Regions from separate parts of the Homo sapiens genome. Here all the other regions are reported to be linked to region 3. Evidence: microRNA targets listed by miRTarBase, many of them from high-throughput screens and not tested one by one. Region 3 holds a microRNA gene; each other region holds the end of a gene's coding sequence.
The links. Region 3 holds the annotated microRNA hsa-miR-4736 (AGGCAGGUUAUCUGGGCUG, at 1,321-1,339, shown strand). A microRNA usually pairs through its seed, bases 2 to 8, with sites in the 3' UTR of a target mRNA and lowers its output. Matches are read on the target gene's strand: a 7mer-m8 pairs with bases 2 to 8, a 7mer-A1 pairs with bases 2 to 7 and ends in A, and an 8mer does both.

Region 1: miRTarBase lists NECAP1 as a target of hsa-miR-4736. Seed matches in the 3' UTR shown: 7mer-A1 at 1,747-1,753.
Region 2: miRTarBase lists CCDC106 as a target of hsa-miR-4736. Seed matches in the 3' UTR shown: 7mer-m8 at 663-669.

The regions. Positions count from the first base shown.
Region 1 is chr12:8,095,505-8,099,626 of GRCh38, forward strand. NECAP1 (NECAP endocytosis associated 1) reads left to right here. Exons shown (of 8, transcript NM_015509.4): 7 at 97-199; 8 at 538-2,377. The coding sequence ends at 586. Among named protein-coding and RNA genes, the nearest start is that of NECAP1, 15 kb to the left of the region's middle.
Region 2 is chr19:55,652,144-55,656,278 of GRCh38, forward strand. CCDC106 (coiled-coil domain containing 106) reads left to right here. Exons shown (of 5, transcript NM_001370470.1): 5 at 287-1,018. The coding sequence ends at 603. U2AF2 (U2 small nuclear RNA auxiliary factor 2) reads left to right here and starts at 2,892. Exons shown (of 12, transcript NM_007279.3): 1 at 2,892-3,010. The coding sequence starts at 2,962. RefSeq lists enhancers at 2,018-2,687, 3,638-3,717 and silencers at 2,738-2,787, 2,878-2,927, 3,138-3,277.
Region 3 is chr17:58,333,208-58,337,342 of GRCh38, reverse strand. It overlaps MIR4736 (microRNA 4736), which reads left to right and starts at 1,321; the gene lies at 1,321-1,367. All of the region lies in intron 2 of TSPOAP1-AS1 (TSPOAP1, SUPT4H1 and RNF43 antisense RNA 1), which reads right to left. RefSeq lists enhancers at 996-1,205, 834-1,375, 1,396-1,575, 1,596-1,645, 1,716-1,935 and 3 more.

The DNA of each region.
Region 1 (4,122 bases), not on the chromosome of region 3:
CCCAAAGTGCTGGGATTACAGGCGTGAGCCACCGCGCCCGGCCCTTCCAAGATTTTGATTATGTTTTTCTTTTTTCTTTTCTTACCTTGTGTTTAGATATCCTTTTAGATTTGGATTCTCCTGCTCCTGTCACGACACCAGCACCAACTCCAGTTTCTGTAAGCAATGACTTGTGGGGAGACTTCAGCACTGCCTCCAGGTAATGGGCATAGTGAAACTAGCATACTCTCAATCAGGGTGTAGGAGATATGTACAGTCAATTGAAATCTTTGATCTGGAGAAGCAATGGATATGCAGGTCACATAGAGTCTTTTGGAAGAGTTCTAGTGAAGGAAATATAGTAGTGCTGGGAATGGGGGGACAAAAAAGCTGTAGGATGAGGTTTGAGTGGGATATTTCAGGCCTTTGTAAGTAGAATTGCCATGAAGTGTGGTTTTGGAAATTCTAGGCAGTGATTTCTTAGAAACTATTAAGTAAAGAATGGAGTTGTTATCCTAATATTATGTCTCTGGCTTTCTCTGTTCTCCTGTCTTGCAGCTCTGTTCCAAACCAGGCACCACAGCCATCCAACTGGGTCCAGTTCTGAATGGCATTGGCAGGACATTAAGGACAGACTTGAGGAATAAAAATGACCTTGAGGGCACCAATCTGTGAGGGAAGTTAGGAACCCATTTCCTCCCCAGAACCAGAATGACTGGACAATCTTTTTCATAGCTTCTCCATCACATTCAAGCTGGTTTATGTCACTCCCCTGTGTTGTTACTTGTACAGCCAAGAAAGTATCTGTTATCTCCTGCGTAGTACCAAGGTAGGGGACTAGTGGATCTTATCATAGTTTTGGCTGACTATGCAGGGCTTAAAAGGCCAGCGTCTGTTTGAGGGGGAATGACCTCTAACATCTGTAAAATTTGTCTCATCTTTTAATTTCTTTAACTTATTTCAAAATCATCTCATGACCCTTGTGTGCCTCTTTGTGAAGCCCTATTTAGCAATTTCAGGGGAGTCAAAAACCTTGCAACTTCCTTCTCCACTAACCCAGGACTAAAAATGGACAGGCTGACCTCAGTGTTTACAAATTCAGAATTTTGATAGGGGTAGATATGGAGAAAGACCTATTTCCTGGGTCTCTGCTGTGTAGTCTCCTTCAGGCTTATTGTGCTCAGTGAACATCCAGTGCTGGGTGCAGCTCCATCACCCTCTTGTGTGTTTACATGTCTCTTTCTATGATAAGAGGGTTGTGTTGGTGGCACCTCCACTACTCTTTTCTGTTTGTTGAGTTTGAATTGTGTTAACATCTTTGATCAGTGGGTGTATCTGTAATGAAGGAGGTTCAAGAGGCTGTGCTTTCCAAGTGATAGTCTATAGGAGTGTTTAATTTCTTGCAGCTCCATCTGGTTGCTGCATTTGAAGCATGGCATTAATTTGTATTTGCCCTGTTCTTTGACCTAAAGTTGAAGGGTTTAGAGTTTTTAACCTGATCTGTAGAGCAGAGAGGTTGAAAGCACTTAACTCTTGTTTAGTATCCTCATTGCCTTGCTGCCTGGGTATCTGGCCCCTTTCCATAAACATTTCTTTTCAGTTCATGTAGTTCTTTAATAGAAAGCTGCTATTATGTATATTGTCATTTGTGAAGGAAGTTGGAGAGTCACAGCTTTACTGTGACAGGTTTTGCCCAAGGCTTTGATACCTGTCACCCAGGGTATCTTAAAAGCAAGTTGTTCTCCCACTACTTTCCTTTCCCTCTGCCCTGCCATTCCTATTACAATGCTGTGAAAAAAGTTCTGCTTCTTAGGTGAATGGGTACTTTCTATTTTGTTTCTAAACGAGCAATTTTGAGGATGAAATGGGAAGATATCATTGCTTCCTTTTTGCACCTATTGGGTATGTACACTCTGGCCGAAGGGAGTCCTTATGTTTAGTTTCAAAATATATTACTTTCCTGGATTCTCTTCTTCACTTTTTCTGACTTTGGGTCCATTTTCTTTTCATTGCCTCCTTTTCCAGGCAGCTCTATTCTTGCAGAGCCATAGCAGGACATGTTAAAATTCCAATAGAAAACACTAAAAGGAAAGTCTGTGGAATCACTAGTGACTAAATACTGGGAACCTATTTTCTCAATCTTCCTCCATGTTGTGTTCTTTGTATTCTTGAGATGATAATATATTATGTATTTGAATTCCTGAAAAATGGAAAATGTTTAAGATATATGTATATAAAGTGTATGCTGTATTGGTGCAATAATGGTAATTAAAAATATGAAAAAAGTGTCTCTTTTATCTTTTAATTTGCTTATTTGATTACCTTTTAAATTTAATTGACCAAATATAAGTGGACCAGTAGTTAATAAAGGATATTTATATCACTCTTTATTAAGAAATAAGGCTTTTAAGAAGTTGAGACTAGACCTCTGTGTTCATGGTTCTAAAATGACAGAGCACTCTGTGTAATCAATGAATATTCATTATTTATTTTCTGGTACAGTTAATTTAATTTGCTTCAAATTATCTTCATGATCTAGGCCACCTCTTATATCTTAACTGTAATCAGCAGAAATGAAAGGGATCAGTATAAGAGAAATAACTAAGGTCAGAACCACAGACTTTGGAAACCAGAAAAGGTCTTGGGAGTTCTTGTTCAGTGATTGCCACAGGAGATAAATTAGCTAGATGTGGTTGGTGGTTTACTCCTGTAATTCCAGCACTTTGAGAGGCTAAGGTGGGAAGATTGGTTGAAGCCAGTTCAAGACCAGCCTGGGCAGTATAGCGAGATCTTATCTCTACAAAAAATCTAAAAATTAGCTGGGCATGGCAGCATGTGCCTGTAGTCCTAGCTACTTGGGAGGCCGAGGTGGGAGGGTCACTTGAGCCTGGGAGGACGAGGCTGCAGTGAGTTGTGATTGTACCATGGTACTCTAGCCTGGATGATAAAATGAGACTCTCTCAAAAGAAAAAACAAAAAACATGAATCAAGGCTGGGCATGGTGGCTCATACCTATAATGCTAGCACTTTGGGAGGCTGAGGCGGGTGGATCACCAGAAGTCAGGAGTTCGAGACCAGCCTGGCCAACATGGTGAAACCCTGTCTCTACTACAAATACAAAAATTAGCTGGGCGTAGTGGTGGGTGCCTGTAATCCCAGCTACTCTGGAGGCTGAGGCAGGAGAATCACTTGAACCTGGGAGGCAGAGGTTGCAGTGGGCTAAGATTACACCACTGCACTCCAGCCTGGGTGACAGTGAGACTCCATCTCCAAAAAAAACAAACAAAACCCCCCCAAAACCATAAAACTATAGCTACAGTAATTTGTTAGTGGATACACAGTATGAAAATATGAAAATTGGTATCAAAAACAAAATGTGGCTGGGTGTGGTGGCTCACGCCTGTAATCCTAGCACTTTGGGAGGCTGAGGTGGGAGTATTGCTTGAGACCAGGAGTTCAAGACGAACCTGGCCAACATAGTAAGACCCTGTCTCAAACAAAACAAAAAATATATATGGGAGGGAAAGTTAAAGTGCAGAGTTTTTGTATGTGATTTAAATTATCAGCTTAAAATAAACTGTTAAAAAGTGTTATGTAAACCTCATGGTAACCACAAAGCAAAAACTATAGTAGATACACAAAAGATAAAGAGAACAATCAAAGGACTATAGAAAATCATCAAATAACAAAGGAATAGAGCAAGAGAGGAAGAAAGGAACAAAGGGCCCACAAAACAATCAAAAAACAATTTGAAAAATGGCAGCAGTAAGTCCTTACCTATTAATGATTATTTTGAATGCAAAATGGATTACATTCTCCAATCAAAAGACAGAGTGGCTAAATGAATTAAAAAAACAAGACTCAACTGTATCCTGCCTACAAGAGCATCACTTCACCTTTAAGGACACATAGAGACTGAAAGTTAGGCATGGAGACAGATATTTAATGCAAATGGAAACCAAAAGAGGGCAGGGGTAGCTATATTACTATATAGTCCCTCCTTATCTGAGGTTTTGTTTTCTGTGCTTTCAGTTACCTGCAGTCAACTGTGCTTTGAAAATACTAACTGGAAAATTACAAAAATTATTCATAAGTTTAAAAGTGGCACACTGGGGGCCGGGCGCGGTGGCTCACCCCTGTAAT
Region 2 (4,135 bases), not on the chromosome of region 3:
GGGTGCTGGGACCGCGTGGGTTGAACCCGGCCTCTTGGCTCATTTTGTCTCCTCACTCTCCTTCCTGGGCCTGCCTCTTCCCATTTCCCACTGGTCCAAGATCTGGCTGCGATTCTTCCCCTCCTCTCTGCCCCTTCCTTGCCTGTTGTTCTCCGTCTCCACCTGCACCGGCCCGTGCCTCTGCTCGCCGAGATCCTTTCTTCCCATGGCCGTTTCCCTTCCCGTGTCCGCCCCCTCAGTCTTGTGCCCTGCCCCTCACTTTCGTGTCCCCGCCTCCACCCCTCAGTGAAGGACGCCGACGGGGTCCTCTGCCGGTACAAGAAGATCCTGGGCACCTTCCAGAAGCTCAAGAGCATGTCGCGGGCCTTCGAGCACCACCGCGTGGACAGGAACACCGTGGCGCTGACCACGCCCATCGCCGAGCTGCTCATTGTGGCCCCCGAGAAGCTGGCCGAGGTGGGCGAGTTCGACCCCTCCAAGGAGCGCCTGCTCGAGTACTCCCGCCGCTGCTTTCTGGCCCTGGACGACGAGACGCTCAAGAAGGTGCAGGCGCTCAAGAAGAGCAAGCTGCTGCTGCCCATCACCTACCGCTTCAAGCGGTGATCGCACCACGCCTCCGCGCCTCCACCCGGGCCTTCCTCCCCCGTGGACCCCGGTGGATGACCTGCCCCTCTCCCCGCCGCGCCCCTGCCCCTCCTCCTCGCTCCCTGGGTTGGGGGCTCCCTTAGCCGGGCCCCCAAGCGCGACGGCCCCGGACCGGCCGCGGCCCCTTCCCGAACGCCGGCACCCCCTTCCGCTTGGGCTGCCCAGCCCTGTCCTCGCCGGGCCCCTTCCTCCTGGAAAACCAGGCAGGCGGGTGCCCCCCCCTCGAGTGGGGGACTGTACAGACCCCGTCTCCGCCCTGGCCCCGCGGAGGAGCTGCCCACCTGATTCCCGGACAGACCTCCCCAACTCCGCGTGAGACAGAGAATTATTCAGATAATTTAAATTAAAAAACGACGTGAAAATTTGGAATAAACTTGGCCTCAGCCTCTTCCTAGGAGGGGGACGTGCCTGGGAGGGGGCGGCCGTCGCCCCGAAGACGGTGACGGGGTTGCGGGGGCTTCCAAGGGGGTGGGTGGTCAGGCGGGAGGACGGGTAGGATACGGTGTAATTAGCCCCCCGGAGGCAGAGATGGAGAGTGAAGCAGCTGCGCCCCAGAAAACTCGGAGGCAGAGCTCGGGAAAAGAAGCGCGGACACAGCCGGGCGCGGTGGCTCACGCCTGTAATCCCAGCACTTTGGGAGGCCGAGGCAGGCGGATCACGAGTTCAGGAGATCGAGACCATCCTGGCTAACACGGTGAAACCCCGTCTCTACTAAAAATACAAAAAATTAGCCAGGTGTGGTGGCGGGCGCCTGTAGTCCCAGCTACTTGGAAGGCTGAGGCAGGAGAATCGCTTGAACCCGGCAGGCGAAGGTTCCAGTGAGCCGAGATCGCGCCACTGCACTCCAGCCTGGGCGACAGAGACTCCGTCTCAAAAAAAAAAAAAAAAAAGTAAAAAGAAGCGTGGACACTACCCGCTGGGCTACCCAGACCGGAGCGCGGCGCGAGAGGCGTGAGTCGATGACCTCTAGCGAGGGAGGCCACCTAGCGGCCAGGCCAAGTCTGGAGGATACTTCCGTTGGGCCGCCAGGGGGCAGTAACGCCAGATCATCTGTCTCCCGGAAGTAATGCCAGATGATCCGTCTGCCGCGCCTGCGCGGCGGGAAGAGCCGGAGCGCGTTGATGTGGTTGCCGAGACAACCAAGAGGGTGGCCGGATTTAACGGCTGGGGATTAAGCACTTTCACCGTTGTAAGGGAAATCTCGCGCACGCGCAATGGGGACTGAAACCTGGTCCCCGCAACCCCCTTCACGGGAGCAGTGGGAGAGCGCGCCACAGAACGACTTTTACGCAGGCGCAGAAGCCTGTTTCCCCTCACCCGCGGCTTCCACCCTGCGCAGGCGCAAAAAGCCGCGCTGGCAACCTCCGCAGCGGTCGCGCGCACCCTTCATCCCTCTTGCTGCTTTTGTCTGGCACAACCTTCTCAGGCCCTCCGCGAGGCCGGCCCTTTTTTTCTTTCACTTTCCCCACCCGGAGAGCCAGGTGCCGAGAACTAGGACCTCGTCCCCTTCTCTATCCCTTCCCCTGATCCATCTCGTCTCTGTTCTCCTTCCCTTTTCCGTTCCCGAAGCCGGAAGGAGCCGAGGTACCCACGGAAAAAGTCGAAGCTGTCCCCGGAGAGTGAGGCCTTCACGAAGCGGTGGCGGAAGGAGCCGAAGTTCTCTGATCGGAGGCGTGAGCAAGTGGCATCTCCGGAAAGAGCCGAAACACGGACTCGAGCTTAATCCCAGGAGGGGCCCGAGGGCGAGATCCGGAAATCTCCGGAAAGAGCCGAAGGCCGGGACGGTTAGGATTGTCGGAAGTGGCCGATTGCTTGGACAGGGCCGGCGGAGAAGATCGGAGCAAGTCCGTGGAAGAAGCCAAAGACTGGGACGGATTGAATTGTTGGAAGAACCCGAACTCGCAGAGGGGACTGGGCGCAGTGGCACACGAGGACACACGGAAACCTCCGAACGTTGAGGAGATAATCTCGGAAAAGTTACGGAAACCTGGGAAGTCGGCGAAACCCTACGTTCGGGTGTTTTCGGAAGCAGCCGAAGCGGCCGCCTGCTTCGCCTTCGTCCAGTATCCGGAGATAGCCGAGGCGCTTCGGAGCCAGGCTCGGGGGGAGGGGCAAGCTCGCGGGCGGGCGGGCGGGTGAGGGGGCGGAGCCCGGGCGGGGCGGGGAGGGCTGCCGGAGGCTTGATTAGGTAGGAGGTGGCGAAGCGCCGGCGGCGGCCGGAAGTAGCCGAAGCCAGCGGCGGAAGTAGCCGAAGCGGCTGGAGCGGGCGGCAAGGCGAGGCGAAAGCTGCACAGGGCCCTACGCGGCCGCCTCAGCATGTCGGACTTCGACGAGTTCGAGCGGCAGCTCAACGAGAATAAACAAGGTGAGGGCACCGGGGTCGCGGGGCGGAGGTGTGGGCGGCTCCTCGCGTCGCTCTTTGCCCCCCCGCCATTTTCTCCCTCGCTTCCCCCCACTTCACGGCCGCGCGGCGCCCCCCAACCCTGGTTCCGTGGCGCGCGCCTCGTTCACGTGACGTCCCCAGCGTTCCGCCGCGCGCTAGGCGAGGGGAAGGGGGCGGCGGGGCGCGGGCCCGTGACGCATGCGCACGGCGGCTGTCCCTGCGCCCCACGTGGTCCTGGCGGAGGTGGCGCGGGGGACGCGGCACGAGCGCGCCAGATGCCTCGACGTGAACTTTTGTTTTTTAAAATCTTTTTGGTTTCTCTGAAAAGGAGATTATGTTAGTCCCCGTAATCTCTTTTCTCCCGCTGCCTTGGCACTTCCGCTTCCGGTCGGGCCCACGGCAGCGTCTCCACGCCCCCTTTGTTTCCAAAATGGCGGTTGTGAGAACTTGGTGGGGGGGCCCCTTTCCTTCCTTCACGTGGATGAGGGCAGAGCCGTTTCGGCGGATGCTTGGAGGCCACGGGCCCCTCGCGTACCCCTTTTCCTTTTTGCTGATTTGCTCTGATCTCTCCCGCCAGGTGGTTTCTGCCCCGTCTGTTGGTAGTGGGGCGCCTCATATTAACGTGTTTGGCACATGTTGCCTAAAAGCATCTGCATTCTTTGAGTGTCCGCACGCACACATCCTGCATATGCGGGGCTTTTGGCGGTCCCGAGAATCGCGATATGGAGTGTTTGAGACAAACCTCAAATCATTTACAATCCCAATCTCAGGGCACCTGATAATACTCAGTCTCAGATCTCAATATAGAGATAAGAAAACAGGTTCTGAGGGAGGAAGAGGGATCTGGCCCACTGCGCTAAACTCTTCACTTACGGGGAAGGTGGGAGGCAGGTTCCCTTCAGGGTATCGAAAATTGTGATGGGTTAGAACAAAAAGCCTGGGGCCCTGATCTTAGGGATTCCAATAATATTAGAAGTGGGAGAGTTGTTAAGACGCTTTAAAAATCCTCCGTGTTTCAGTTTGTGAAGAAATACAGGACCAGGGAAGATTGGAGACTTGTTTCTTTTCAGGCTTCAGCTGCCCATGTTCCTAGCTCGTTCGGAGGAC
Region 3 (4,135 bases):
GAGGTGTGCCCTCGAGCCAGCTGAGAAGATACCATGGCTGCCTGGGGGCTGGGCAGGATTTGGAACACAGATACTGCTGCTTCCTCCTGCGAGGTCTCTGGGCTCCTGTGCTCTTGGGGACTTCCTAGAGCACAAACAAGTCTTTTGGTCAACTCCCTCCCCATTTTTATAGGTGAAGAAACAGGCTGGGGTTTAGGGGCAGATTCAGTGACTGGCCCAGAATTGTACCATAAATAATCACAGGGTGAGGATTAGACCCCTAGTTTCTTGACACTTAATTTTATCCTCTGCTTGGTGATCCTGATGTTGGGATAGGGAGTGGGGCTGATGAGGGATTGTAGTGGGTTCCAGGCAGAAAACCAGCTCTTGGACCCCCTCCCTGTCCCCGCCACACATACACACACAATTTATTTGCAGCAGTTGGAACTGGAGCAGGTGCAGCTATGCAAGTTAAACCCAGCACCTGTGTGTGGAGAGAGTCCAGAGGGAGCTTTCATCTCTCCACTTGTGTCCCCAGAAGATCCCAGAGGAGAAAGCTTCTGGTTTCACGGCCACTCCCACAGCAGTGGTCAGGGTAGCCTTCCTCACACCCACACCCCCTTTCCACCCAGCCCGTCCTGCCTTTTCCCAGATGTTGTGGAAAGAACCCAACTTGGCCCTAACTTGTTTTGTGACCTCAGGCTGCCTTCTGCCTCTCTCTGGGCTTGCAGCTCTGTTTCCTGACTCGGGACCAGTTGCTGCCTAACCTTGCTGCTTAAAAGTCCTTGGGTCTTATGATCCCAGGAGATCTGAGCCAGAACCCTGCCCCAGTGCGAAGTGACCTCCTAGTGTGGGCCACTGTGCATTGGAGCTGCCCCTTGCCAGACAGAGTAGAGCAGGAGAGTATGAAATTAAACCTAGGGGAGTCTGGTACGAGCAGGCAGGGGCTGAGGGGCAGCCAGTTTGCCCGCCCTCCTTGCCTGGAGGCCCTTTAGCACTCCTTGTGCTCCCAAGGCTCTGAGATGAGACAGATCTTCTGAGGTGCTGAGATGATCTCTGTAGGGGACATGGGCTGTCTTAGGTTCTTAAGGCACTTGCCTCTCTTGGCACCTGCTTCCCTTGGCTGCCCCTCCAGGGAGATGGGGAAGGGTCTCAACATTTGGGACTATTGACTCCAATTTGCTTTAGCCCCATTTTGCAATGCTAGGGGCTCAGTTTCCCTCCTTTGTGGCCAGGCCTGTCCCCAACTGTAGCTTACTGGAGGGCGGGTCTGCTCTGCCTTCTGGACTTCCTGTTTGTGAGTGGTTAAGTCTGTGGCTTCTCTCTTGTTGGCTCTTTGTAAGGCAGGTTATCTGGGCTGCCATCTCCCACTGGCTGCTTGCCTGCCTGTGAGTGAGGGCCCCAGGCCCATGCAGATGGCAGGGAAGGGTTGGTTTTCTTTTCTGCCTTCATGTGCGGACAATGAGCTTGTGTCATTTCTTCCACCCTCTGGGCCTGCTCTCCTTACAGGCATTAGGCCTTCAAAAGACAATTTTCTCCCTGTTTCTCCTCCTTGCCCAATCTCTCCTTCTAAACCCTCTTCCACCTGTACTCACATTCTCCAGGAAGCCTTCTCTGATGGGACTCCTGTGACTCTAAGGTTGCTACTACAGCATCCAACATCCCAGCCCCTTGGGCCCTGGCAACTGCCACCTGGGATGGCCTTGTGCCTGTTGCCGTTACTATGTTAAATGTAGATGTGTGTGTCTACTTCACCCTCAGATTCAGTGCTCACTAGAAGTAGGAACCAAGTGTCCCCATCAGACCTGAAGCTCTGCCCCTGCTTTGGGTACAAGACACTCACTTGCACTGACACACACACTCGTACACACTGCCTATCAGGCTGGGAGTGCCCAAGGACAGGTCCTGTGTCCTTTTCTCTGCCGGCTCACCTTTGCCTACCCACAGCCTCAGCTTGGCACACAGAGATGGTTGTCCCCCAGGTCGGTAAGGTGGGGGTGGCAGTGAGGGACCATGAGCCTGGAGCCCTCCAGGATTCCAAGCCCAGATCCCTCTATCCTGATGAAGGGCTGTTCCCACCTTGTTCCTGCCGCCCCCGCCCCCTACTTCCTCTGAGCAAGAATCTGAATGTCAGAACCAGGGAGGGCCGTGGGGGACTTTTGACAGCAAGTCCAAGTGAGCCAAGGTTGCCCAGTGACAGCCTGCTTGAACCTGGATCGGCCGCCAAGGAGGCGGAGTTTGAAGTATCAACTTGAACTCCTCTCTCCACAAAGACATCAAGGGTTTGGTTTTTCTCATCCTGGGGAACTCAGGCAACAGGTGGCTTTGGAGGCAGGAGTGGGAGCCAGGCCACTCTCACAGAGGTACTTATGTTCTGAATCCACCCCCAGCTCCTTCCAGTCACCCTGTCAAGCACTGGCCCCAGATTCCCAGGTGACCCTCCCTGTGTCTCTTGGGGAGGACGCAGGTGTGTCCAGGAGTGTAGATAGGCCTCCTCTAGGTGTGTGTACAGGACTGCGGGGTGTGTCGGCGACAGCGTGTCTGTGTCTGAATGTTTTGGGCTCTCTGGGCCGCTGTGTCTGCATGTGTGTTTCCATGCAGGCACTGGCTGCTCTTCCCTCAGGCACCTGCTGGTCAGTCACACAGGCCACGCATCTGGGTGGTGGCAGCCTACGTCAGGCTTCGAGTCCAGCAGCCTTGTTCCAGTCACAGGTGGACGGCCCATTCCATGTATCCTAGCCATTCTCACAAAGTTTCTTATTGTCTCTGTATTCTTATTTTAGACTCTGCCCCTTCCCCTGTCCTTGATTTTGTCTCTGGCCCTGTACCATTTCTTCTGGTTTGAGGCCCAGCAGAGTCGGGAGTCATCGCTGGGCTGGGGAAAGTCCAGGTCCTCATTCCATCCTTCTTTAGCCCCAGCCTCGGGATGGGAACCAGCAGAGGGCCTAGACTATCCAGAAACCCCCTGACCCCAGAAGCTCCGTTGACAGAGAAGCTGGGCCCTAAGCTCTCTTCTCAAAAAAAGAAAATAGATAAATAAAAATAAAAACTATTGGTGGTCTTTAGGCATTGAGGTTGTACAGAGAAAATCAGCCTCTGTTGTCACAAGACAACAGGCAGCAGGGACACCTCACCCTGCTCAGGACAGGAGAAGGGCTAGATTGGAGACTGTTGGAGCCATGTGTGTCCCTTGGAACCTCAGCTCTGACTCGCCACAGGTCACATGCTGAGGGGTCTATGGCATAGCTGGGCCCAGAAGCCGGGCTCCTGGGTCCCATTCTGTGACTCTCTTTTGTGGGGACAGGACGCCTCTGAAGTGAGGGCTATGGAGGCATCATAAGCAGGAGTAGGAGGTAAGATGCTCTCAGGGGAGGAGCCCTGAAGAATGGGGGTCCAGGAACCCAGGTTACTGCACAACTTTGATATTCTTATCCTCTTATCGCCTGGGGCAGCCACTTCCCCTCCACCCAGGTCAGAGGCAGCGGTGGTCTCTTAAAGGAGTATCGCCCCATTTCTGGCCAGCTGGCCCTGCAAGGCAACCCTCCTCACCACTTTCTCTTTAGACTCAAGGGGGTGAAAGGCCCCATTCCCCCTTTCTCTGTCCCATTTTAGGGACCTGGGAATGGGGCAACTTTCCAGGTTGAAGGACCCCCTTCCTGGAGGGAAGGATGTGGGGCCATCTCCCTCCCCACTGCCCCCATGCCAGTCCTCTTCTAGGCCCTGAATCTGACAGCTCCCTAAGGTCTGTGTGGGCCTAAACGGAGGACCCAGAGAAGAGGTCCATGGCCTTCTGGGAAGGAGTCACTGGGTGGTTTTCTCTCTACCGCTCCTACCTCCCCAAACCCATTCCTCTTGCTTCCAGAGCCAAGCCCATGGAGAGGCTTGGAGAACGCTGGGGGAAGATGGTATGGGCTGGGCTCAGCCGACGCTGTCCCCTGCCCACCCCCACACCCTACTCCCCTCCCCCAGCCAGGGGCCCTGGGCTGGGCAGCTTCCTGCCTTCCCCATGGGGAAATCGGGGGTGGCATGCAGGTGGGTGGGCCCCATGCCCACATCCGGTGGCCGCCAGAACCTTCCCTCGAGCCTCTTTCCCGCCACTCCTCCAAGCCCCCTTCTCTCCGCATAGCACCTGTGCCCCACCTTAGGACCTGATCCT